4 linked regions of the Homo sapiens genome follow. The protein of the gene in region 3 interacts with the protein of the main gene of each other region in a biochemical or structural test. Each region holds a gene or a part of one and is shown on either strand. Other genes may lie near its edges. The genes, in order: SHC2, KPNA4, KDR and HTRA4.

Region 1 (7,040 bases), on a different chromosome or scaffold from region 3:
GTGTGTGTGTGTGTGTGCATGTGTGTGGGGCTTGGGGTGTGTGTGTGTGAGCGTCTGGGCAGGTACATGTGTGAAGTGTTACAGTGGGGGAGGTTTGTCCTCTCACACACATTCCCGTGTGACCTCCTGCGGACCCCACACATCCCTTAGGGCCCTAGTCCCTTCCTTGCTGGGGACTCCACATCCCAGCCTCGGTCGTCCAGGCTGACCCAGGACCCGGCTGCAGTGGGTGCCTGTCCAGGAGACGTCTCCATCCCCACATCCCTGCCCCTGCCCCACTCTTCGCTGTGGTCCTGGTCCATCTGCCGGGCCCCCTGCCCTCGAAGCGGGGCCCCCATGACCGCGTGTGCCTCCTGCCGCCACAGGTCATCGCCAACCACCACATGCCGTCCATCTCCTTCGCGTCAGGCGGAGACACGGTGAGGCCAGGGATGGGGGTGGACCTGCAGCCCTGCCGCCCCCCTCCGGCCGCGAGACCCTCTCATCCTTCCCCAGAGCCCGCCTAACGTACCCTGTGCCCACATCCACTGCCCCATCTCTCTGCATTGCTGGGGTGGGCAGCTGGGAATCCCGGTGGGGGGCCCAGGCAGGTCCAGCTGGCCCCTCCCCGCCCCCAGGACATGACGGATTACGTGGCCTACGTCGCCAAGGACCCCATCAACCAGAGAGGTGAGGCCCCCGGGGAGGCCGGTGGGGGTCCTGTGGCTGGGGGGCACGGCCGTGTGGCTCGGAGGCTGCATGACCAACGTGCCCGCAGCCTGCCACATCCTGGAGTGCTGTGAGGGCCTGGCACAGAGCATCATCAGCACCGTGGGCCAAGCTTTCGAGCTGCGCTTCAAGCAGTACCTGCACAGCCCGCCCAAGGTGGCGCTGCCCCCAGAAAGGTAACCAGAGCTGCCTCCCCCGTGCCCTGGGGACACCCCCAGTGACCTGCCCAGGTGCAGAGCCTGCTCCACCTCCTGCAGGCCTCAGCCTCCGTCCTGCCCTTGTCCCTCCCTCCCTGTCCCGTGAGAATATGGCTCAGCCAGAGGATCCTGTTTCCTCGGCTGTTAACACCCGAGTAAACGCATCCCCGCCTGCCCCCCAGGATTGGGGAGGACTAAGCAAGCTGACTCCCCGGTGTGCCTGAGGCTGTCAGCCCTGCTGCTACAACCAATATCCCTCCTCCAGACGCGCGGCCGGCTCCCGCAATGGGCAGAAAACGGCCTCCGTCTCACCGCAGAACATGTGTAAAGGGGGGGACGTGTCTGTGTGCTGGTAACACGTTTTTTATAGACATTGAAGTGTGAATGCCACGTGTTGCAAAATATGATTCTCTAGATGTTTTCTCAAACACTTAACTTTGATAATTTAAAGATTGAAAGCCCATTCTTAGCTCGTGGGCCACACAGATCTAGGCGGTGAGCTGGATTTGGCCCTGGGCTGGGGTTTGCCAGCTGGCCTTGGAGAAGGAGCTATTTAAGTCTCTATTCATCATTAGAAAGTCAGCTTCCTCCAATGGTGGGAGGGCAGGTGCAGGTGCATGAGCTCCCAGCCTGCTGGTCACGAGGGAGGCGGCATCGCACGCCTGCTCACACTCACCCCTTTGTGCACGGGGACAGCGTGCTTGATGCACGTTGCTCAGCACGCTCCGAAGCTGAGACGGGCTCCTCGCCTGCCTCCAGAGCTGCCTCTGCCTTCCGTAGGCTGCTTCATAATTTATCCCAGCAGCGACTGTGGGCCAGGTGGGGTGCACCCCTCTGGCTCTCGGGGCCGTGCTTGCTGAGGAGCACCTGCAGGATCAATTCCTGCCAGTGCCATCGGGGCCAGAGGGCGGGGGCGCTTTGATCCCAGAGAGTTGCCACCCTGACCGGTGATGTCCTGGTTCTGGGTATAAACTTGGCTCATGCCCTCTGCTGCCGGGCGGGGCCGGAGGTGGGCAGAAAGGAGTGGAGACTGGGTTTGCCAACGACCTGCCTTTTGTGCTACAGCTCGGAAATGTGTGCAACATTCCATTTTATAGATGAGGAAGTAGTGGGCCTGGTCACTGGCTCTAGAAGCGTTTCCCGGTAGGAACCCTCAGTGACAGGTGGGGGGCTGGGATTCGAACTCAGATATTTCCTGCTCCCCCAGAAGCTCAAGCCGTAAGGCTTTAGCCCCCTTGGGCCCTGCCTGTGCCATGGCCGTTGTTGTCTGTCCCCCAGGCTGGCAGGGCCGGAGGAGTCGGCCTGGGGGGACGAGGAGGACTCTTTGGAGCACAATTACTACAACAGCATCCCGGGGAAGGAGCCGCCGCTGGGCGGGCTAGTGGACTCCAGGCTGGCCCTGACACAGCCCTGCGCCCTCACGGCCCTCGACCAGGTCAGCCTCTGCCCTCGGGGGGATGGGGACAGGGATGCCCCAGCTGCTGGTTCCCTGGACCTACCTCCAGCTCTTCTTTCTGCTCCTGTTCTCCTCGATCCTAGAGGAGGGTCTCTCACTCAGACTCACTCACTCACTCACTCATGATTTCACTTACTCACAGACTCACAATCTCACTCACAATCTCACAGGCTCACGATCTCACTCATGATTTCACTCACTCACAGACTCACGATCTCACTCACTTGCTCACTATCTCACAGACTCATGATCTCACTCAGTCTCACTCACTATCTCACTCACAGACTCACGATCTCACTCAGACTCATCATCTCACTCACGATCTCATGATCTCACTCACTCATGATCTCACTCACAGACTCATGATCTCAGTCACGATCTCACTCACTCATGATCTCACTCACTCATGATCTCACTCATGATCTCACTCACTCATGATCTCACTCAGGATCTCACTCACTCACTCAATCACAGGCTCACAATGGGGCGCCGTGTATCTGCCCGGCCTCCTCTATCTCTCACTCACTATCTCACTCACGATGAAGCGCCATCTGCCCGGCCTCCTCTAACTCTCACTCACGATCTCACTCACGATGAAGCGCCATCTATCTGCCCGGCCTCCTCTAACTCTCACTCACGATCTCACTCACGATGAAGCGCCATCTATCTGCCCGGCCTCCTCTATCTCTCACTCACGATCTCACTCACGATGAAGCGCCATCTATCTGCCCGGCCTCCTCTATCTCTCACTCACGATCTCACTCACGATGAAGCGCCATCTATCTGCCCCGCCTCCTCTATCTCTCACTCACGATCTCACTCACGATGAAGCGCCATCTATCTGCCCCGCCTCCTCTAACTCTCACTCACGATCTCACTCACGATGAAGCGCCATCTATCTGCCCGGCCTCCTCTAACTCTCACTCACGATCTCACTCACGATGAAGCGCCATCTATCTGCCCGGCCTCCTCTAACTCTCACTCACGATCTCACTCACGATGAAGCGCCATCTATCTGCCCGGCCTCCTCTATCTCTCACTCACTATCTCACTCACGATGAAGCGCCATCTATCTGCCCGGCCTCCTCTATCTCTCACTCACTATCTCACTCACGATGAAGCGCCATCTGCCCGGCCTCCTCTAACTCTCACTCACGATCTCACTCACGATGAAGCGCCATCTATCTGCCCGGCCTCCTCTATCTCTCACTCACGATCTCACTCACGATGAAGCGCCATCTGCCCGGCCTCCTCTAACTCTCACTCACGATCTCACTCACGATGAAGCGCCATCTATCTGCCCGGCCTCCTCTAACTCTCACTCACGATCTCACTCACGATGAAGCGCCATCTATCTGCCCCGCCTCCTCTATCTCTCACTCACGATCTCACTCACGATGAAGCGCCATCTATCTGCCCGGCCTCCTCTAACTCTCACTCACGATCTCACTCACGATGAAGCGCCATCTATCTGCCCTGCCTCCTCTATCTCTCACTCACGATCTCACTCACGATGAAGCGCCATCTATCTGCCCGGCCTCCTCTATCTCTCACTCACGATCTCACTCACGATGAAGCGCCATCTATCTGCCCCGCCTCCTCTATCTCTCACTCACGATCTCACTCACGATGAAGCGCCATCTATCTGCCTGGCCTCCTCTATCTCTCACTCACGATCTCACTCACGATGAAGCGCCATCTATCTGCCCGGCCTCCTCTATCTCTCACTCACGATCTCACTCACGATGAAGCGCCATCTGCCCGGCCTCCTCTAACTCTCACTCACGATCTCACTCACGATGAAGCGCCATCTATCTGCCCGGCCTCCTCTAACTCTCACTCACGATCTCACTCACGATGAAGCGCCATCTATCTGCCCGGCCTCCTCTATCTCTCACTCACGATCTCACTCACGATGAAGCGCCATCTATCTGCCCGGCCTCCTCTATCTCTCACTCACGATCTCACTCACGATGAAGCGCCATCTATCTGCCCGGCCTCCTCTATCTCTCACTCACGATCTCACTCACGATGAAGCGCCATCTATCTGCCCGGCCTCCTCTATCTCTCACTCACGATCTCACTCACGATGAAGCGCCATCTATCTGCCCGGCCTCCTCTATCTCTCACTCACGATCTCACTCACGATGAAGCGCCATCTATCTGCCCGGCCTCCTCTATCTCTCACTCACGATCTCACTCACGATGAAGCGCCATCTATCTGCCCGGCCTCCTCTATCTCTCACTCACGATCTCACTCACGATGAAGCGCCATCTATCTGCCCGGCCTCCTCTAACTCTCACTCACGATCTCACTCACGATGAAGCGCCATCTATCTGCCCCGCCTCCTCTATCTCTCACTCACGATCTCACTCACGATGAAGCGCCATCTATCTGCCCGGCCTCCTCTAACTCTCACTCACGATCTCACTCACGATGAAGCGCCATCTATCTGCCCGGCCTCCTCTAACTCTCACTCACGATCTCACTCACGATGAAGCGCCATGTATCTGCCCGGCCTCCTCTATCTCTCACTCACGATCTCACTCACGATGAAGCGCCATCTATCTGCCCGGCCTCCTCTATCTCTCACTCACGATCTCACTCACGATGAAGCGCCATCTATCTGCCCGGCCTCCTCTATCTCTCACTCACGATCTCACTCACGATGAAGCGCCATCTATCTGCCCCGCCTCCTCTATCTCTCACTCACGATCTCACTCACGATGAAGCGCCATCTATCTGCCTGGCCTCCTCTATCTCTCACTCACGATCTCACTCACGATGAAGCGCCATCTGCCCGGCCTCCTCTAACTCTCACTCACGATCTCACTCACGATGAAGCGCCATCTATCTGCCCGGCCTCCTCTAACTCTCACTCACGATCTCACTCACGATGAAGCGCCATCTATCTGCCCGGCCTCCTCTAACTCTCACTCACGATCTCACTCACGATGAAGCGCTATCTATCTGCCCGGCCTCCTCTATCTCTCACTCACGATCTCACTCACGATGAAGCGCCATCTATCTGCCCCGCCTCCTCTATCTCTCACTCACGATCTCACTCACGATGAAGCGCCATCTATCTGCCCGGCCTCCTCTATCTCTCACTCACGATCTCACTCACGATGAAGCGCCATCTGCCCGGCCTCCTCTATCTCTCACTCACGATCTCACTCACGATGAAGCGCCATCTGCCCGGCCTCCTCTATCTCTCACTCACGATCTCACTCACGATGAAGCGCCATCTGCCCGGCCTCCTCTAACTCTCACTCACGATCTCACTCACGATGAAGTGCCATCTATCTGCCTGGCCTCCTCTATCTCTCACTCACGATCTCACTCACGATGAAGCGCCATCTATCTGCCCGGCCTCCTCTAACTCTCACTCACGATCTCACTCACGATGAAGCGCCATCTATCTGCCCGGCCTCCTCTGGACACATTAGACGAGGTGGCATTTCAGACATGACTTCTACCCTCAGACACTAAATAAATACGGCAATGATTTAATCAGGGCCTTGGTAAGTCCACCAGAGAGGCAGTGAGGATGTCCATGGGGACATACACTCTGTAGGGCGGTCCGGAGGCCTTCCCTGAGGAAGCGGCATTTGGGTAGAGCCCTGACTGGTGAATAGGAGCTGCCTGGGAGAGCAGAGCGGGGAAGGTTATCCAGGCAGGGGGAACAGCCATTGCAAGGTGGCAGGATGTGCTGACCACCTTCCGAGGTGGAGAGAAGGCGGGGAAGGCCACGGCAGAGGTGGGCGGCAGACCCAGGGGGCCTAGTTACAGAGTGAGAGAGCAATGGGAGGGCCAGGGCTGTGCTCCCCACCCCTAAGTCTCCAGCCATCTAAGAGGGCCGGGCGGGGAGACTGGGGGTCCAGAGCCAGGAAGAGGGGCTTGCACACACCGGGGAACCTCTCACTGCTCTGTTTCCAGGGCCCATCTCCTTCTCTAAGAGATGCCTGCAGCCTGCCATGGGACGTGGGGTCCACCGGTACAGGTAGGATGGGCTGGGGCTGCAAGGGGTACCCACGAGGATTCTGGGGCTCCTCAGCCCTGTCCTGTGCTGGCTCCCCCTCAGTCTTTCTCCTCTCTGCTTATTTCACATTAATCTATGAGATCGTCTTGCTCCTAACACTCTGCTGAGATTTTCATCATCAGTGTCTGTTTTTCCTGCACACACTAGATTCCTTGCATGTTGGGTATAAGTACTACATTATCCACACGGTATTAGGTTTCCGTGCATGTTGGGTATAGGTACTGTGTCATCCACATGGTATTAGGTGTCCATGCATGTTGGATATAGGTACTGCGTCTTCCACACGGTATTAGGTCTCTGTGCATGTTGAGATATAGGTGCCGCGTCATCCACACGGTATTAGGTTTCTGTGCACGTTGGGGTATAGGTACTGCGTCATCCACACGGTATTAGGTTTCCGTGCACGTTGGATATACATACTGCGTCATCCACACGGTATTAGGTTTCTGTGCACGTTGGGGTATAGGTACTGCGTCATCCACACGGTATCAGGTTTCCGTGCATGTTGGGATATAGGTACTGCGTCATCCACACGGTATTAGGTTTCCGTGCACGTTGGGATATAGGTACTGCGTCATCCACACGGTATTAGGTTTCCGTGCACGTTGGGGTATAGGTACTGCGTCATCCACACGG
Region 2 (5,065 bases), on a different chromosome or scaffold from region 3:
GAAACTGAAGCACATAGGGATAAAATAACTTCACATACATAAATAAACCAAAGCATTCTAATAATTTCATACTATAGCTGACTGACCAAAACAGCAATCACTTAACTTTGTGGTTTGGATATTTCCTTGTAAAATATCTTATTATAAGTTATTTCAATAAATCATCCATACAGTATTTCCAAAATATAAACTGTATCAATAGTGTTAGACAATATTAGGTTACCTCTGCTTCATAATATATATAACTGGTATCTGAAAACCACACAAGGATCCATTTCAATACCCTTATGGATGTCAGATATCCAGACCAGACACTGGGCAAAATATCAAAAGTGAGGAAAAGGAAATAAGGAAATGGGCATTCATCTGGCAAGCTATGAAGTATCTTCCCTTTCTATCGAAGGCTTTCTAAAACTCAGATGCAATGAGACAAATTTAAAAACTGTAGATTGAAGGCTTTTAGAGGTAGTCACTACAATCAGTTCATCTGAGAAATTGCATCATTATCACAAGCATTTATTGAGTACCCATAGAACTCATGGTACCTTCACGGTGTTTACAGAACTTTGCTTATATGCCGACCTTGCCCTTAAGGAGCTTACAATCTAGTGGAAAGAAAGACGGAGAAACTCAGATGTGATAGAGCAATGAGTGAACAGATACTATAGACTGAAAAATAACCATAAATGTAAAACACATACTGAAAAATGAGGGTTAATGGGGATGGCAAGGATGATAGGTAGGCCTGGATATACTCCTGACTTCTTGAAGGAGTAAATATCTAGAATATTCAAGGACGTAAAGTGCGGTTGAGAAAGCCAGGATGCAAACAAACATTTCCTATCTGCTGTGTATTTTCTTGCTCCCTGCAGCTGAGAATTGCAAAAAGAAAACAGGGATAGAGATAATGGGTAAAAACTTTTTAGTATTCTTTTAGTACTTCTGTTTCTGAATTAGACCGAACAGTCACCATGTAGGTAACTTAGCTATCCTAGATCATCCTAAACTGGTTAAAAGGAAGATTTTAAAAACTAGCTTGTCTATATGAGTTCTATAAACATATGTAATTTTACCTTAACTAAAAGGTTAGGATGACTAGGACTGCCACTATGCTAAAGACCACTCAACTGAATATAATACTGACATGGCAGAAGTGCGAGTTTTATCAGTGATACACATTGTGTACTGCATTGGGGGCTTACTAGATGTGTGGCGGAATATACCCATTTATGAAGGCAGCACATCGGCAAGTAAAAATGTAAGTGAAGGTAGGAAATACCTAGAATACATGATGTTTTATGCAGCTGAACAGGACAACCCTGAAAAGACAAGAATTATGGTAATACCAAAGTGACTAAGGTTGTCTTGATTCCCCGCCCCCACCACAATTATGAATCAAAAGATGGAGTCTTTTTTTTTTTTTTTTTAAGGTAAATACCCTCTTTAGCTGAGTCCAAGACTTTGGATATTAGATTACTGTACCTAAAAAGAGTAAAATGGTGGCCAGGCGGTGGCTCACGCCTGCAATCCCAGCACTTTGGGAGGCCAAGGAGGGTGGATCATCTGAGGTCAGGAGTTCGAGACCAGCCTGGCCAACGTGGTGAAACCCCATCTCTACTAAAAATACAAAAATTAGCCGGGCGTGGTGGTGCACGCTTGTGGTCCCAGCTACTCAGGAGGCTGAGGCAGGAGAATCGCTTGAACCTAGGAGGTGGAGGTTGCAGTGAGCCAAGATGGCACCACTGCATTCCTGCCTGGGCAACAAGAAAGAGTAAAATGGTAACTATGCACAAAGGATGGGGGAAAGGTGGCTCACAGGGCTTAAACATCAGAGGAATGGAGAGGACAGGACAGTGAGGGAATTATCTGGAAGGTAGGTAACTGGATTGAGAACCACAAAAAGCATGTAGATTTAAGCAGATTACGAGTCATTTTAAACAGCTGTTTCAAAGTAAGAGTAAAAACAGGCTGGAGAAAATCTTGGGTAATATTAGAGTAACATAGTCTAGGATAGGAATCCATCAGTTATGGAGATCAGAGGTAAGATATAGTCAGGGAAATTAGGATTCATGCTTGAAGAGTAATAGAAAAACCTAAGTGAAACAGGTTATTGGAATTTTCTTTATGAAGAATAAAAGTGGAAGAACTGATAGTCTGGAAAGGTGAAGTAATCTGGAGTAGGCAGCTACAAAAGGTATAAAATTTGTGGAGAAGGCAAAAATTGGGGCAGAAAATATAAATAACAAGGGAGTACTGCAGTCCTCTGGTGGGAGGTAGATCATAAAGAATCTGTAGAACCATTTACTTTTCCTCACAGTCAACTGCTCTTACACCCAGAGCAGTAGCTGTCAAGTCAATTTTATTGAAAATACACTGGACTTGGACATCCTGAGTCAAACTGCCATCACCTAAAGGGCCTGGATTTAAAAGGAATTTTCAAGATTATTGTTAACTTCTGGGTTAAGTGTTTAGGGAAAAAAATGTTAAATCTACTTTTCTTATACATGATTGGTGTGCTTAGTTTTTTATCAATTTGACACTACAGTCCAAATTTGCTTCTGATCACACTAGAATAGTTTTACCAATGTTCATTATTTTTCAACTTCCTTTATTAAGAATTAAGGCTGGTTGGGCGCAGTGGCTCACGCCTGTAATCCCAGCACTTTGGGAAGCCGAGGTGGGCAGATCATTTGCGGTCAGGATTCCAATACCAGCCTGGCCAATACGGTGAAACCCCATTTCTACTAAAAATACAAAAATTAGCCAGGCGTGGTAGCGTACTCCTGTAATCCCAGCTACTCAGGAGGCTGAGGCAGAATTGCTTGAACCCTTGAGGCAGAGGTTGCAGTGAGCCGAGATTGCGCCACTACACTCCAGCCTGGGCCACAGAGCGAGACTGTGTCTCAAAAAAATAAAAATAGAAGACTGCACTAATGCCACCAACGTGCATATTGATTTGAAGGCATCTTGCAGCAACTTTTAAAAATTATTGTACATATATATTTAAAAGCATACTTTATTAATGTGCTTATTAAAAAGTTTAGGGAAAACTTTAAGTGTTCAAAATGTCAAGTTTGTTAGGCATCAGTTTGTTAGTGTTTGGGAGTATTGCCTCAGATATCTGGGCAAAATTTTTTCCTCCCATAATATTAAATTATTGGCTGACAGTTAATGAATTTTGCCAATAAGTAAAATAATCAAGAAGTTACAAAAAGGATAAGATACTCAGCTATCTTGGCCTTCAAAACGCCAATGGTGGATTCTAACTGAAATTTTATATATAAATGGTAGATAATCCACCAAACCCGAGGAGTTAACAATTAAAGTTGGCCTATTTATAGTTCACTTTAATAGCTACAATGGAAGATTCAATTTTGGAAACTCAAAAAGGTCAACTAATTTCAAAACTCTTAGGCAAGCTTCTATAACAATGTTACCCATTCCTTAGTAAACAAAAAAAATATCCAAAAAGCTACATTCACATTTTTTTGCATTGGTTCACAAATTTAAATGAATTTAGATTACCTTTAGAATAGTAATTAGAAGCCCTGGGCAGTATGGGAGTTGAGATGTGGGCTTTATTTGGCCCTTAGTAGCTGTGTGACCTTGGGCAAGTCACCTCAACAACTCATCATCTAAAGGGAAGGGTTGGGACAGACTGTAATTCATGGACTCTTATGAATCCCCTAAAACTGTATGAAAAACTACCATGTATATACACTTTTTGGGGAAGCTGGTCCAGTTTTCATTAGGTTCTCAGAGGCAACCTTGATCCCCAAATAAGCTTGCTATGATAACTATATAAGGCTATCACTTGTAAATTGTTCCAGTTCTAAATAGTTGAGTCCTTGTCATAGGAAGAACTCTTAAGATGGCTCCCAAGATTCCCTGGTATACATACTCCATATAACCCCCTCCCTTGACTGTGAACAGGATCTTTGAATATGATGCGTATCACCCCTGTGATTGGACTACAATGCAGGGCAAAGGTGAAGGGATTTTGCAGGGGTAATGAAGGTACCTCATCAGTTTGGCTTTGGGTTAATCAAAAGGGAGATCACCCTGGTGGGTAGGTGGCCTGATCTAATCAGGTGAGACCTTTAAAAAAGCGCTTAAGGCCTTCCCTGAGATCAGAGATTCTCTTGCTGGCCTTGAAGAAGTTCCCATGATTTCTTCAGTTGCTAGGCAATGGATTTTGCCATATGTGCATAAAAGAGGACCCCCTAGCTTCAGATAAGACTGCAGCTCTGGCTGACACCTTTATTGCAGCCTTGTGAGACCCTGAGCAGAAAACCTAACTACACTCTTGACCTACAGAAATTGTGAAATAATGTATGTTGTGTTTTAAGACACTAAATTTATGGTAATTATACCAAAATTACACAGCAGTTATTCTCTAAATTCAAAATTTAGCTTAATCTCTGTAACTTTTTCCTTGAGGAAACTGAGGCAATGGAGAATCCAAAAAGGGTGCCCCCATAAATTACTGTTACAATAAACCCAGTCATTTTACAATGCAGTTATACCTTTAAAGAAACAAACAACTCCTCACCCTATGAAGTGCTGCTGAGGTAAGCCTAAACTAAATGATACACTCCCTCTCCCCAAAATTATTCTAGATCCATTTTTAATGATTCATAGATAGCTCTAATTATAGAAATGCTCCAGGTTTGGTCCAGAGCAATGTGGACCAATGGAAAGTATTATTTCCACCATAACACACAATTACTGAAGTCTTTGAAAATTACAAAGGAAATATATTTAAAGATAGATTTTAGACTAGGGCGTCTCACACACCCCTAATATAACATTCTTATTTTTACAGCACTTGAGGTGGTCTCAATGTTCAAAAAGACAGTTTAAGACATGAAACGTTAAGAACGTTTAGCTTATTAGGCATATTATTCTATGCCCCCATCCCCATCAGAAATAAGCCTGTGTTAAAAATGAAACAATTTCCTAGATCACTGGAGAATTAAAAAAAAAAAAAAAGTGTTTAACCAGGTAACCGTGATGAACTGTCAACTGTACTGAATCAATTTCAGAGACAGAAAAGCCCTTCCCA
Region 3 (7,040 bases):
GCACATCTGTGTGGTGTGTGAGAACATGTGCAGTCACTTATTCATTTTGCCTGCATTTGTTCATATTGGGATCCTCAGATTCAATGCACTGGATGTTTGCACTGGGTATTTACTTATACTCTCTCTATTTATTCCGTCTCATACTTCGTCCTATTTGTTCATACTCTCTTATTTGCCCAGCAAGGTCAATGCCAGTTTAGGCCTAGGGAGTCATTTTTTCTTAGTTGATATGACTTAGAAAGCTTGGGAGCCTGCCCAACATCAATTACTTTTTTAAAGCTGGTATTTTCTAGGTCTTGATATTTATTAAGACCCTAGCATAGTGGACAATTTTTCTTTCTCTCATGCTTTTTCAACACCTCATAGCTCTTCACATTTAGTTGACAGAGAATTCAGTTATCTTGCTGTAGAGTGACCCATGGTGAGGAATCTATGCCATGGTACTTTTCTGGTTCTTATCCCTTATAGGTAAAGACAAGTTTCTTATGTCTGAAGCTTGATGTCAGGATGAGTTCAGGGCTTTGATGAATAAGTTCAGATCTCCCAATTGTAATTCATTAGCATTGCACTTAAAAAAATTTATATACGTTTTTAAAAAAGGGTAATGCTAATGAATTACAATAGAGAGAAAAGTACATTAGTTTGCATGTATGTGTGAAACTGGGAAAATTTTTCACGAAAATATTCATATACTTTTTAAAAAAAGGGTAATGCTAATGAATTACAGTAGACAGAAAAGTATATTAATTTGCACATATGTGTAAAATTGGGAAAATTCCACACATACATAAAAGTATATTAATATGCATGTATGTGTGGAATTGGGGAATGTTTTCTCTTCCTCAGTTTCTCTCCCTTGCTTTTAATGTACAGTCTTTATGAGCCATTATTTCAGCTGTGGCAGTTTGGTTACCAGGGGAAGCGCACTAGAAAATTGATAAAGGAAAATGAGACAAGGTCATAGATTCTCTCACTCCCTTCAGGGTACGTAGATGAACTATATAAAAATCCGTCTAAGTGGGATTCGTTAATCAGCAATTTAGTCAAATGTGTACATCCTATGTTCTATAAGAAATGTCAGTGGGTCCTTTCCCAAGGGAGTGAGATCATCAGATGAAGGTTCATTTGGTTTCAATGTCCCGTATCCTTTTGTAAGACCTTGAAGTTGGCAATGCAGGAAAACAGGAACTCCACCCTAGCTCCATGAATTGCAGAACTGTTGTGTTGGTTTATGACCATCTGCCCATTCTTCCTGTTATGACACAGCTTGTGAACTTTTACTGAGAATGGTGAAAAGTAAATTCCCAGTTTTATACAATGAATTGCTGAAGAGGCCTTTTAAAGTATAGAGTATGCATTGTTTATGGAAGGTGTTTCCTATTAGGTCTAACTCAGTGGCAACTACATTCATTTATTTAATTTGTTTCTAGGTTTGCCTAGTGTTTCTCTTGATCTGCCCAGGCTCAGCATACAAAAAGACATACTTACAATTAAGGCTAATACAACTCTTCAAATTACTTGCAGGTAAGGATTCATTCTAGATCTAGATTTCTTGTGTTAAGTAACTGATTGTTTATTGAGTGGAAATAATTTCCAGTAGAGCAGAATTATAATAGAGCTTGTAGTAATTGTTCATAAGTGGTGAGGTTTCTAAGAACTGATGTAATAATGGAAAATGAGAAGAATTTTCTCTCAAAAATTCTGTACAATTTTGCTGGTGTTTTTATACTATTCTCTGCCAACATGCATACACACACACACACACACACGCACACAAATACACACCCACACCCACATTCCAATAACCAGTACAGCCACCTGGCGTATAGTAGACATACGCTCAATAAATATGAATGAATAAATGAAGTTGAGGGCATACATTTAAGGAATAGAGTTGAAAAAATTTGGGACTATATTTATTATGCTTGGTATGATTCTTGAACACTTATTATCCCTTTCCAAAAACTTTGCTTTATAAGAAATTTATTACTATAATTACTTAGGCAGTAATATTTAATAGCAATTTAATATTTAGTGGGTAATATTACTGAGCGCATGATCTACATAAATAATGGACTTCGGGCCCTGCCTTGATATTCTGGAATGCATCTTTCCCCACTTGCTAGCAAGAAGTCATGCTATTGATTTTTGATAACTGGAGAAGTAGACTTCTTTGTCAAGAAGAAGAGGCCTTTAAATTTTGCCTTTCAACCCTTACCCCAGGACGAAAGATAGAAGACCCTTGGGTTTAACATAGTGATCACACACGAAAGGCATGGAGCCTTCTTAGGACCTGTGTGTTTTTGGTAGAGACTGTGACAAGTGGAGGTGATGTTACCCTCCTGGAAGAGTGCTGGGGGTCCACAAAGGACCTTGGGTAGGTTATTGCCATTGCTTCATACTTGTTGAATACTAAGCATTAAACCGAATGACATACATCTATTTTAGACTGCAGTATAAAGAATACCCTAGCCCCTTACCAATACCCAGCCCTTGGGAAAAAACACAGTAGCAGGTGCTGTTTCTCTAGCTTTACTTGTTTAAGACACATTTCCCATTAGATTTTCCTTTTACCGACCCTCGATAACAAGGTTATTTGAAATCCCCAAGGATCCCATGCTCCCTTTTTAAAACTCTGCATAAACATTTCTTATGTTCTGAAAAAAACCATGGAGTGTGTTAAAAGTAACTTCATTGATTTAGCTGCAACTTCCTGGAAATTTTAAGTTCTTTGAATGAAGGGCCAATAATGTTACATTCTTCTTGATGTTGACTATCTTCTTATCTTCCTTGGGGCCTTGTAGAGAAATGCTGCAGTACAAGCCATCTATGTTTTAATGCGAGGTCCTTACAAGGTCCTGAGGGACTCTTACTTGCACCTCCTTCCTTCCTAACCTCACTTCTTACTCCCCTTTGCTCACTCTTACCTGGCTGCTCTGGTTTCCTGGCTGTTCCCTTAATACTCCAGATATGCACCTGCTCCAGGGCCTTTCCATGTGCTGTTTTTGCTCCTGTAATACTGCTCTTCATGATGTTCCTATGGCTAGCTTTATCAAGACCACCTCCTGCAAAATTCTTTACTCTTTTCTTTGTATCTTCTATATTTTTCTCCATAGTACTAAACACTATCTTTTATACAATAAACTTTCCTTACTTTTTAATTGCCTGTTTTCTCCAGTTAGACTGAGGTTCCATAAAGGCATTGATTTTTGTCTGATTTGTTCACTGCTCTTTCTCTAGTCCTTAACAAGTTTGGCACATAGTAGATGCTTAATAGATATTTGTTGAAAGAAAGAATGCATTAATTAATGGAAAACTCAGGAATCTTTATAAGTGACTTCTGAAGCTGAGTTTATAACTTTTCATCATATGTCAATCTGACTTGTTGGTAGAAGACTTTGTTTTTTTTTTTTTGAGGCAGGGTTGCCCTCTTGCCCAGGCTGAAGTGCAGTGGTGTGATTTTGGCTCACTGCAACCTCCACCTCCCGGGTTCAAGCAATTCTCATGCCTCAGCCTCCTGAGTAGCTGGGATTACAGGCATGCGCCACCACACCTGGCTCATTTTTGTATTTTTAGTAGAGACAGGGTTTTACCATGTTGCCCAGCCTGGTCTCGAACTCCTGGCCTCAGGTGATCCATCCGCCTTGGCCTCCCAAAGTGCTGGGATTATAGGCATGAGCCACCATGCCTGGCCGGTAGAAGACTGACTGTGTCTGTTGAAGAGTTTATTTAAGTTTCAAAACCAAATTTTCTCTTTTCTTAGAAATAGCCTCACAGTCTGGCACTTCATATTAATACCTCCCTGAAATTAATTTTTCAGGGGACAGAGGGACTTGGACTGGCTTTGGCCCAATAATCAGAGTGGCAGTGAGCAAAGGGTGGAGGTGACTGAGTGCAGCGATGGCCTCTTCTGTAAGACACTCACAATTCCAAAAGTGATCGGAAATGACACTGGAGCCTACAAGTGCTTCTACCGGGAAACTGACTTGGCCTCGGTCATTTATGTCTATGTTCAAGGTAAGTGGTGAAATAAAATTCATTTCCCACGTCTCTTTACCAGTTATAAAAGACAATAGGCTCAAAGAAGAATTGAGTACAACAAAGGGCTTGCTCTAAAGGCTGTTTGCCAAGAGGAATACACACAATTCTTCTCTCCTGAGGCTTTCTCTGAGAAATAAGACTCATTGATTCTGGAGCTTGGGCCGTGTTACCTCTTTTTTGCCCAGTTAGTTTGGGTCTGATCTTTGTTTCCAAGGTAAATCTGTGTTCACTGTTGGCCATTGAGACTTATAAAAAGTCTTCCTATGTTTGAGAAGAAAACCTAAAATTCTTGAAATCGAGGAAGATTTGGGGGTGAATTATGGAGAAATTTCTGTGGAGAGATAAGTTATCTACAGCAGAGTAGGAGATTTTCCCAAGAATGCATAGGAAAGCATTTTTTGCCAAGGGCTCTGGAGTTTTTTGCACATAGGAACCTTTTTTTCTTACTAGTATTTCATAAAAAACAATTCCCATACTCATGTGCAAATAAAGACATTGCTTCAGACTCTTTTCAGGACAATGTTTCTTTCCTTTGCTTGTTTGGTCTGAGATCTTGGATGATATGCTGTATCTTTCTAGGATGTGCAGTTTGGGATTGATATTATGAAGGCTGACTTAACATCCATATAGTATAAAATAAATGTCACACATATTCTGCATTTATAATGAGTTATGCATTCTTTTGTGTTTCAAAAATCTTACACTATCTTATCTTTTCTGTGAAAACCTAACTTAACTAATGAGATCCCTATGATATAAATTTAAGGAATGTAAGGGCTGCATCATAGTTTGGTTGGATGTACCAAATATTTTTCTTTTCAGTGAAGATAAACAGACATTTTATGTATTTACGTATATGCCTTTTTACATCCCAGAGTATTTGAGACAGGTGAAGATGACTTAGACTTTTTTCCCAGAAGCAGCTTTTACAGGGCAAGAATTTCATCAGCTTTGGGAAACACACTTGCATATCTCTGCTTACATTTCAGTAGTGTAATATGGTCAGTGCAATGAAAAAGTGGAGACCACATCAAAATAACCTATGCCACTGGATTCACAATGTTTGAGAAATATCTTTGCCCAGAGTAAGCACTGTCAAAGATAGAATTCTGTGCCCTCCTCCTTCCCTCCACAAGATTTGAAAGAGACAAGGCTCACATCTTGGAGAATTTCTGGCTCCTTTTGACCTGGCAGTCTTGAGAGATGCAGCTCGGTCAGAAGATTGCAAGGATTTCCTGCTTTCAGCCTGTCTAGAAATACTACAAGATGAACATCCCCCATATCTCATTATTTACTTCTTCCTAAGTCAGGAAACTTGGAGACATGTGAAAATTCATTTCATGAGTTTCAGTAAATATTTTATTTTGAGAGGCTGGGTGGTGGTTTGGGTTTCTTTTGTTTATTTCCTTTTTTTGAGATACCGAAATAGAATTGATTTACTAAATAGGTTTAGTCTTACGTCAAAGGGTTAATTTAGCTTCCAAAGGCTTGCTCTGTAAGCAAGTTATGTAATATTTCATAACATGTGGATGAAAGGTAGGCAATATTAAGAAGTGGCAATCCCTAGCACTGTTTATTGGTACACTGCCTGTCTTTGGGTATACCATTAAATTCTGCTTCCTGTCTAAGCTTAAAGTTCTAGGAGTTGGGCTGTCCAAGATTTTGGCCATGAAGTTAAACAATGGGAAAGGAAACACTGAAGTATTCTCTATGGATAGGTGTTTAATGTCCCCTCTGGTCGCCACCTTACTTCCCTAGTCTTCTGACCCCATTCTCTTCAGCAATGGATGGAGCCAGGAAGTGAGCCCTGGCCTCATAAGATAATGGCTATGGCATGTGGTGGGCTAGATTGGCTGCTTTTCTGTGCTTTCCAGCTGGGAAGGAAATCAAACTTCTGCTGTTGCAGGGAATTAGCTGCCTTTGTCCCCTGTGGTTTAATTAACTCTTTCTTCACTTTGACTGACTATTATGAAGCACTCTGAGAATGCTTGATGGGATGTGTTGGGCATAGCAATGTGAAATGTTATCTCTCTGAGATTTCAAGCATGACTCCACACCACATCATCTCTATCTCTGAGGAATGGACTAGGTTTCCAGCAGCATGTTAACATTGTATGAGTAATGTTTGATTGGCCTTGAAATCTTTTTTTTTTTTTTTTTTTGAGACGGAGTTTTGCTCTTGTTGCCCAGGCTAAAGTGCAGTGGTGCTATCTCAGCTCACTGCAACTTCTGCCCCCCGGTTCAAATGATTCTCCTGCCTCAGCCTCTGAAATAGCTGGGACTACAGGTGCGTGCCATCATGCCTGGCTAATTTTTTGTATTTTTCGTAGAGATGGGGTTTTGCCACGTTGGTCAGGCTGGTCTCAAACTCCTGACCTCAAGTGATCCACCTGCCTCAGCCTCCCAAAGTGCTGGGATTACAGGCGTGAGCCAAGAACCCAGTCAGAATCTCTTCAGTTTTCTTCTCAGTCTTTGGAGTGGTGACTTTTCAAATGTTTGTCATTGAAGATATCAATGACTGCTAAATGTTAAACTAAATGCAAAAACAATTAAACATGGTTTTAGAAAGAATCATATCCCTAGTCTTCAGAATCTTAAAATGCTCACATGAATGGTCCTCTTGAATAACCAAATTCAAAAGTGTTAGCTGTTTCCTGTTAATCTAAAGATCCTTTGGGATCCATTCATTTATTTTCATGGAATTTACATTATTTACCTAAAGAGAGAGCACATGAGTATTTTAAATATTAGTAAAACTTGTCGGTAAAGTGTATAGATTTAACTTTAAATTTTAAAGTAAATATTATCCTTCATTTTGAAAAAATTATAATGATTAATCTTTTAAAATGTGAAATCTATAAAAATATATTCTGCTTGTCAATAAACCTTGTGAAAGGAGTCAATCTCAATTGGGAGTTTTTTTTCAAAATTTTTATACACACAGATATATACACATGCATGTGCATGCACAAACACACACACACACATACACACACACC
Region 4 (8,018 bases), on a different chromosome or scaffold from region 3:
GTCCTGCAAGTTTCACTGCCAGGCTGACGTTGACACATTTGGAGTGAATCCTTTTGACTGTATTTCATTTTTGTAGGCAAGCATCCTTGGACTTATGAGGTGGTGATCCTGGTTGGGTACTCTTTCTGGGACTCTGTGATAAACATTGTCTGAAAAGCCCTAACTTTCTTTTGTCTTTTTCTTCCTTTTATTTTTATAGGAAACGTCCTTTTCTAGATCCATTTCTTTGACCCGACCTGGAAGCTCCAGCCTTTCAAGTGGGCCCAACTCTATCCTGTGCAGGGGGCGGCCACCTTTGGAGGAAAAGAAAGCCCTCTGCAAAGCCCCCTCTGTGGCCTCCTCCTGGCAGCCCTGGACACCTGTCCCCCAGGCTGGGGAGAAGCTGCTTCCACCTGGAGACACTTCAGAGGACTCCTTGTTCACGCCTCGTCCTGGGGAGGGCAGCGCTCCTGGGGTGCTGCCCAGCTCCCGGATAAGGCACAGATCGGAGCCCCAGCACCCCAAGGAGAAGCCGTTTATGTTCAACCTTGATGATGAAAACATACGGACCTCTGATGTGTGATGGAGCACAGTGCCATGGGAGGGAGGGAGGGAGGGAGGACTTGAGAGAAGGAGGCTGTGACTCAGTTTCTCTACCTTGTTGGAGGGTAGTCAGAGGCCTTTATGTCACTCATATTCCTGTGGATGCTCTTTGGGAGGGAGGGGCCCATCCAGCTGGGCTGTGTGTGTGTGTGTGTGTGTGTGTGTGTGTGTGTGTAATATCAACGCAGTGTATTTAATTTGGGGAAGTCACTAGGTTAGAACTGTAGGCATACTCAGTGGAGAGGAAGCTACCTATTCTATTCTAACTATTCTGAGGTCTTCCTGGAGAGGGATTGTTTTAGCAGCTCCTCTCCAGAGGGGGCTGGAAGTCCAGTTTCACCAATGACCAAGTTTTATTTCCTTGTCCTTGTTTTAGTTTTTTCATTTTGTTTTCAGTCCAGGTGCCTCGCAGCTCTTTTGGAATGGGCCAGCATTAGTCTAATTTTAAGCGCTATGTGTTTTGTACCCTTGCAAACTTGCTTTCTCTTTCTTCTTGCTGTTGCCCTTTGAATGAAGCCTTGTGTGCTTGCATGATCAGACCCTGTAATAGGATGAATTTCCATGCACTTAACATGAAGAGATACAAAAAGAATCTAGAGAGAGATATATATTTTTAATGAAATAGAAGCTTGGCATAGAAACATTGATTTAGATGTTATGAGTTGCTGGCCAGAGATTCCTCAGATAAAAGAGCCTAGAAAATTGAGTTTTGAGCGGGCATGGTGGCTCACGCCTGTAATGCCAGTAGTTTGGGAGGCTGAGGCGGGTGGATCACCTGAGGTCAGGAGTTCGAGATCAGCCTGGCCAACATGGTGAAACCCCGCCTCTACTAAAAAATATGCAAAATTAGCCGGGCGTGGTGGTGCAGGCCTGTAATCCCAGCTACTCAGAGGCTGAGGCAGGAGATTCACTTGAACCCAGGAGGTGGAGGTTGCAGTGAGCCAAGATCGCGCCATTGCACTCCAGTCAGGGCAACAAGAGTGAAACTCCGTCTCAAAATATAAAAGAAAATTGAGTGTCCCACCCAAATTTTAGGGCGTACCTCCTTCCATTTGATAAGAAGATGCTATTTCCAGTGTCCCTGGGAGAATTCTTCCATCCAGTTTATATGGTGAATTGCCACCAGCGTTCCCTAAAGGAAGAGAGAACTTAGCTTATTTCTGTCTGTGACTTTTATCAGCTAGATCAGTTAATTGTATTTTTAAATTAAAAATTAGTAACTAGAGGAAGAGACTAAGAGAACTATTTTTACCTGAGTAAATGCTCTCCTCTTCTTGTGTCCAAATCTAATGCAGAGGTGAAAACACTTGATGAGAAAATCCTTTGTGGCTTGAGGGGAATCATGTTTCTTTCAGGACGTGTTGTTTCCCTGAAGTCTATGTCACACTGAGAACTTTTTCTGACTGCACTGCTTTGGAGCTATTCATTTAAATTGAGTTTGGCCTAGTTTTCCTGGTATAAAACAGGAAATCTACATTGTTCCCTCTTTCTCTCCCTTCCATCCCTTCCCCTGCCTTTCCTATACACGCTGGTGTGCTTTTGCCCTCAGAAATTCTTGGTTTGGGAGTTATGTATTTTTGAGTGATCGAGGTTATGACATACTTGGAGCGGCATGATTTCAAGAAGCCATTCCAAATTCTTATAGCTCCTTAGCTCTGGTTTTACTCTCGTATTTTCCCCAAGAAAATTTTTTGGCTATTCAAAGAAAGCACAAAATATGTGATGTGGAACTCATGAAAATAGGGACTTTTGATATCTCTTTAAATATTCCCTGACTCACGGAAAAGATGTCCTCTTTTGGTGTATACATTGTGAAAATCTACCCATTTATCTCTCTCTCTCTCTTTTCTTTTAAATAAATTATCTGATAAGGCCGGCAAGGTGGCTCACGCCTGTAATCCCAGCACTTTGGGAGGCCGAGGCGAGCGGATCACGAGGTCAGGAGATCGAGACCGCGGTGAAACCCCGTCTCTACTAAAAATACGAAAAAAAAATTAGCCGGGCGCAGTGGCAGGCGCCTGTAGTCCCAGCTACTTGGGAGGCTGCGGCAGGAGAATGGTGTGAACCTGGGAGGCGGAGCTTGCAGTGAGCCAAGATCGCGCCACTGCACTCCAGCCTGGGCGACAGAGCAAGACTCCATCTCAAAAAAAAAATTATCTGATAGGTTACTATTGCTAAATTAATTGGCCATTATAATAAGCTGATTTGTTTCTTATTCAGCAAGATCTCTTTTGAGAATGTGACAAATTAAACATACATAGAATCCATATGGTATTATCCTGATAAAGGGAAACGAGGACACTAAGACTGTCAAATGGAAATCTTCTTGTCAATTGGCAAACACTTGGGAATTCCACATTAGAGCATTGCTTGTTTTTAATTTTTTTTTTTTAATTTTTAAAAGACAGGGTCTCACTCTCTTACCCAGGCTAGAGTGCAGTGGTGTGATCATAGTTCATCATAACTTTGAATCTCTGGGCTTAAGCAATCCTCCCATGTTAGCTTCCCAAGTAGCTAGGACTACAGGGTTGTGCTACCACGCCTGGCTAATTTTTAATTTTTTTTTATCTACAGAGCCTGGCTATGTTGCCCAGGCTCTCTCAAACTCCTGGCCCAAGTGATCCTCCTGCCTTGGCCTCCTAAAGTGTTGGGATTACAGGTGTGAGCCACTGCACCTAGCCAGAACATCGTTAATGTAGTTCAATATGAGATAAATTATTATCTTCAATGAAACAAGCTCTAAAAGCATTCCATTCCTAAATTGTATTTCAAACTTCCTATTTTGTTGATATTTCTTAACTTCTGGCCAGTTTTGGACCATAATCTTTTAATGTGAACCAAAGATGGTACGTATTTGACCAAAGCAGTTAGTTTTAAATGTATAAAATTGAACCAAATGGAAAAAATAGGTTGGGGATGCAGTATAGATTAGTGACTAAGTGCATAGGCTCTGGAGTAAATCTGAGTTTTTTTTTTTTTAAAGGAACTAAAAAATGTACTGCATTTTCTTTGTGGAATAAAAGCCTTGCCTGAGTTGTGCTATTTTCATAAGGCTTTTGAAGTGGTCTTGACCCACTGTGTGTAACAGTATTTCAGGTGGTCCTCCCCATGGCTGAATAATGCCATCCATTATTCTTTAATTTTTATTTTTAGAAACAGTGTTTCACTCTGTCACCCAGGCTGGAGTGCAGTGGCCTGATCATGGCTCACTGCAGCCTGGACCTCCTGGGCTCAAGTGATCTTCCTGCCTCACAGCCTCCCAAAGTACTCAGATTATAGGTGTGAGCCACCACGCCTGGCCACCATCTATTACTTTTGAAATCTTCAAAAGACTTGCTTACTCAATGTCAGCTGATGGTTGGTAAAAATAATTTGGCCTTTAGTGTTAAGTGAGACATCATAAGGGTATTGAGGTATACATTATGGAGATTGATGTCAGGTCAGAATATTGGAGTTATACATCTATTTCTGAGTTGAATACTCAGCTCCCACGAGAAAGAAAGTAGTTTTAAGGTCCAGCTTCTTAGTCTACTTGAAGCAAATTTTTTTTCTTTTATATTTCTGAATATAAATATACTCTTATATGGGCTAAAAAGACCCCATGAATAAATAGCAGGTTCAGTAGTTGAGGAGTGGAGTTTAGTAGGTTTGTTTTCAGTATAAATTAGATAACATGTGGAGGTCACAGCATTTTGGAAATTGAGTGTCCCCAAGTGAGCTTTGTTTATAAACTTTCAAAATGTCGGAAGTGGACAGGTTTGTTAAATCTTGTCTGCCAGCACCCTTTTCTTCCTTTGTTCCTTTTCCTCTCTGTGTTATTGCCTGCGGCAGCCAGTCCTTCATACTAGATAGAGTTCAGATAAAGCAAACGTTTGGCAAAAACATACTGTTTGACCTCCTCCCCCTCTGCTTATGAAGGGGTAGCATGATTCTGTGTTTTAAAGCAGTGATGTTTCAGCTGTGAAATGCACTCGCTGTAAGCTCTAGGCTGAGTGCATGGAAACTGTTACGCTTCTCATTTTATGTGATCTCCTAATTGGTATGTAGCAAAAATTTTCTAAAACTGTTTTGTGGCTTGTTTTGTAATAAAACCATGTGAAATACTGAAATATGGTCATGTGTTTTCCTAATACTGACCTTCTGACCATGGGTGGGTGAGCTTTCTTATCAGTCTGCCCTCATTGTCGGTTTTAGGGATTTCAGGAGGTAGGTTCCTGCTCCGGGTAGGGCTAGAGACCTTCCCCTCATTGCCTGGGGGAGAACCTGGCTCCGGGGCGCCGACGGGGGCGGGTGGTAGGGGATGTACGGGTGTGTATATGCAGAGGTATGCCAGGCTCTGCCCCTTAAAGTTTGGGGGCCGGCGGAGGCGGCGCCGTGGCCGGGAGAAAGTGTCTCTCATTTAGGAGGGTTTGCAGGTCCAGAGTAAAGTCACTGAAGAGTGGAAGCGAGGAAGGAACAGGATGATTAGACCTCAGCTGCGGACCGCGGGGCTGGGACGATGCCTCCTGCCGGGGCTGCTGCTGCTCCTGGTGCCCGTCCTCTGGGCCGGGGCTGAAAAGCTACATACCCAGCCCTCCTGCCCCGCGGTCTGCCAGCCCACGCGCTGCCCCGCGCTGCCCACCTGCGCGCTGGGGACCACGCCGGTGTTCGACCTGTGCCGCTGTTGCCGCGTCTGCCCCGCGGCCGAGCGTGAAGTCTGCGGCGGGGCGCAGGGCCAACCGTGCGCCCCGGGGCTGCAGTGCCTCCAGCCGCTGCGCCCCGGGTTCCCCAGCACCTGCGGTTGCCCGACGCTGGGAGGGGCCGTGTGCGGCAGCGACAGGCGCACCTACCCCAGCATGTGCGCGCTCCGGGCCGAAAACCGCGCCGCGCGCCGCCTGGGCAAGGTCCCGGCCGTGCCTGTGCAGTGGGGGAACTGCGGGGATACAGGTGAGCCGCGGGGGCGCGCGCCCTCGGAACACTTTCTAACTCTGGAGGAGCGTAAAGGAACAAGACCTCACTGAGACCGCACAGTTCGCGCCTGGTCCTCCTGCGTCATTTGCCTCCTGGATTCGACACCTCTGTGTTCCTGATTTCCTTTCCTCCTTAACAGGGGCTCTTTACCGGCTGCTACGTGGTTTCTCCCTCCCCATGCACCTTTTGAACACTGTCTTGCCTTTAACATTTTTCCAACTAGGATAGCAGGTCTGGTTCCCTCGAGGCGTACTCTTGAGCCAGTATTTTTTCATAGGGACCAGAAGCGCAGGCCCGCTCAGGAGGAATTACAACTTCATCGCCGCGGTGGTGGAGAAGGTGGCGCCATCGGTGGTTCACGTGCAGCTGTGGGGCAGGTAAAGGAGGAGGAGGAAGACCTCCACTGTCCCAGCTAATGGTTTCTGCGTGCCTACCTGCTCCAGACCCTTCGCAAGCGTCATTTAATCCTAAAAAACCAGTGAGGAAACTGAGACGTAAAGAGGTTGAATAACCTGTTCAAGGTCATTTAACCAAAGAGCAGAGGCACAAGGATGCTGACTTCTAAATCCCAGCTCCCCCTGCCCACTTAGGTGGCTGGTGCTTTTTCCCCCTCCTGCCACAGACAAAATTTAAGGTCAGATATAAGAGCTAGTAGGCAATTTCTTTTCTTTTTTTGAGACAAGGTCTTGCTCTGTCGCCAGGGCTGAAATGCAGTGACAGATCACGGCTCACTGCAGCTCCATCTGCTGGGCTCAAGTAATCCTCCCAACCCAGCCTCTGGAGTAACTGGGACTATAGGCAGGTGCCACCATACCCAGCTAATATTTGTATTTTTTTGTAGAGACGAGGTCTTGTTATATTGCTCAGGCTGGTCTCGAACTCCTGGGCCCAAACGATCTGCCACCTTAGCCTCCCGACGTGCTGGGATTACGGGTGTAGCCACCACATCCAGCTTAGTAGGCATTTTGGTTGTGATCTTGCTCAGCCCCCACTTTGGATACAAGGAAATCCAGACCCAGAGAGCAGGGTTAATTTGTCCTATGTTACTATGTTACGAGGCCAGTTGGCGGTGGAAACTAAGCCAGAATCAGAGCCCTTTGATTCTCTCCTGCCTGGGTCCTTGATACTGTGGTAAGAGGCTGACTTTTGCCTCTAGTATTAGGATTGGGTTCAGTCTTTTCGCAGCAGAGAACCCATGGGCTGCTACACTAACCAGCTCTGAAGAAGCAGTGTCCCTGGAAAAGGAGAGCTGGACCCCACTCTCAACCATGCTCACAAGAGATGGCTGGGGCCCTGTACCTGCCAAGTCCACTGATACATGGAGAAAATTTACGCATAGCCAGGGAAAAGTGAAATGTCTGAGAAAACTGAAGGAAGGCTGGGTACGGTGGCTCATGCCTGTAATCCCAGCACTTTGGGAGGCCGAGGCGGGTGGATCACCTGAGGTCAGGCGTTCGAGAGCAGCCTGGCCAACATGGTGAAACCCCATCTCCACTAAAAATACAAAAATTAGCCAGGCGTGGTGGTGCATGCCTGTTATCCCAGCTACTTGGGAGGCTGAGGCAGGAGCCTGGGAGGTGGTTGCAGTGAGCCGAGATTGCGCCACTGCACTCCAGCTTGGGCAACAGAGCGAGATTCTGTCTCAAAAAAGAAAAAAGAAAAGAAAAGAAAACTATGATGGAGGTATGTTTAATAAGAGTGAGGTTCCCATGACTCAGATTATATGGCTGTATCCCCTAACTTTCTTGCCCTCTGTTTACACTATTGTCTTGTGGAGACAGGTTACTTCACGGCAGCAGGCTTGTTCCTGTGTACAGTGGCTCTGGGTTCATAGTGTCTGAGGACGGGCTCATTATTACCAATGCCCATGTTGTCAGGAACCAGCAGTGGATTGAGGTGGTGCTCCAGAATGGGGCCCGTTATGAAGCTGTTGTCAAGGATATTGACCTTAAATTGGATCTTGCGGTGATTAAGATTGAATCAAATGTGAGTATTTCAGGGCTGAGTCAGAGTCTACATATTTGGGGATTTTTATCTATTTGCTGATATTTTCTGCCCCACTACACTCTCACACCACATCTTTTCTGTTGAATATATGCTTTTCTCTGGTTTCTTTCTGTTCTTTACTCCCTCTTTTATTTATTTGCTTCAACGCCTTTCTGTATATCCCTAACCGTTTCTTTCTTTTCTTTCTTTTTTTTTGAAACAGTCTCCCTCTGTCACCCAGGCTGGAGTACAGTGGCTCAATCTCAGCTCACTGCAACCTCTGCCTCCTGGGTTCAAGTGATTCTCCTGCCTCAGCTTCCTGAGTACCTGGGATTACAGGTGCCTGCCACCACGCCTGGCTAATTTTTGTACTTTTAGTAGAGACTGGGTTTTACCATGTTGGCCAGGCTGGTCTCGAACTCCTGACCTCAAGTGATCCGCCCGCTTCGGCCTCCCAAAGTGCTGGGATTACAGGTGTGAGCCACTGCGCTTGGCCTCTA

Evidence for each region.
Region 1: the proteins of KDR (region 3) and SHC2 form a complex in vitro, tested with the Homo sapiens proteins (2 studies listed by BioGRID).
Region 2: the proteins of KDR (region 3) and KPNA4 interact in a test that uses a peptide from one of them, tested with the Homo sapiens proteins (one study listed by BioGRID).
Region 4: of the proteins of KDR (region 3) and HTRA4, one has a biochemical effect on the other in vitro, tested with the Homo sapiens proteins (one study listed by IntAct).

The regions. Positions count from the first base shown.
Region 1 is NC_000019.10:430,009-437,048, reverse strand, and holds part of SHC2 (SHC-transforming protein 2), read left to right. Parts: intron 1-365; coding exon 366-419; intron 420-617; coding exon 618-669; intron 670-757; coding exon 758-884; intron 885-2,183; coding exon 2,184-2,340; intron 2,341-6,301; coding exon 6,302-6,365; intron 6,366-7,040. UniProt on the Homo sapiens protein: Signaling adapter that couples activated growth factor receptors to signaling pathway in neurons. Involved in the signal transduction pathways of neurotrophin-activated Trk receptors in cortical neurons.
Region 2 is NC_000003.12:160,494,507-160,499,571, forward strand, and holds the end of KPNA4 (importin subunit alpha-3), read right to left. Parts: 3' UTR 501-5,065; downstream 1-500. UniProt on the Homo sapiens protein: Functions in nuclear protein import as an adapter protein for nuclear receptor KPNB1. Binds specifically and directly to substrates containing either a simple or bipartite NLS motif.
Region 3 is NC_000004.12:55,115,581-55,122,620, reverse strand, and holds part of KDR (vascular endothelial growth factor receptor 2 precursor), read left to right. Parts: intron 1-1,430; coding exon 1,431-1,524; intron 1,525-3,820; coding exon 3,821-4,017; intron 4,018-7,040. UniProt on the Homo sapiens protein: Tyrosine-protein kinase that acts as a cell-surface receptor for VEGFA, VEGFC and VEGFD. Plays an essential role in the regulation of angiogenesis, vascular development, vascular permeability, and embryonic hematopoiesis.
Region 4 is NC_000008.11:38,969,222-38,977,239, forward strand, and holds the start of HTRA4 (serine protease HTRA4 precursor), read left to right. Parts: upstream 1-5,006; 5' UTR 5,007-5,042; coding exon 5,043-5,508; intron 5,509-5,809; coding exon 5,810-5,909; intron 5,910-7,313; coding exon 7,314-7,518; intron 7,519-8,018. Other genes in the region: PLEKHA2 (pleckstrin homology domain-containing family A member 2), read left to right, coding at 200-562. UniProt on the Homo sapiens protein: Serine protease.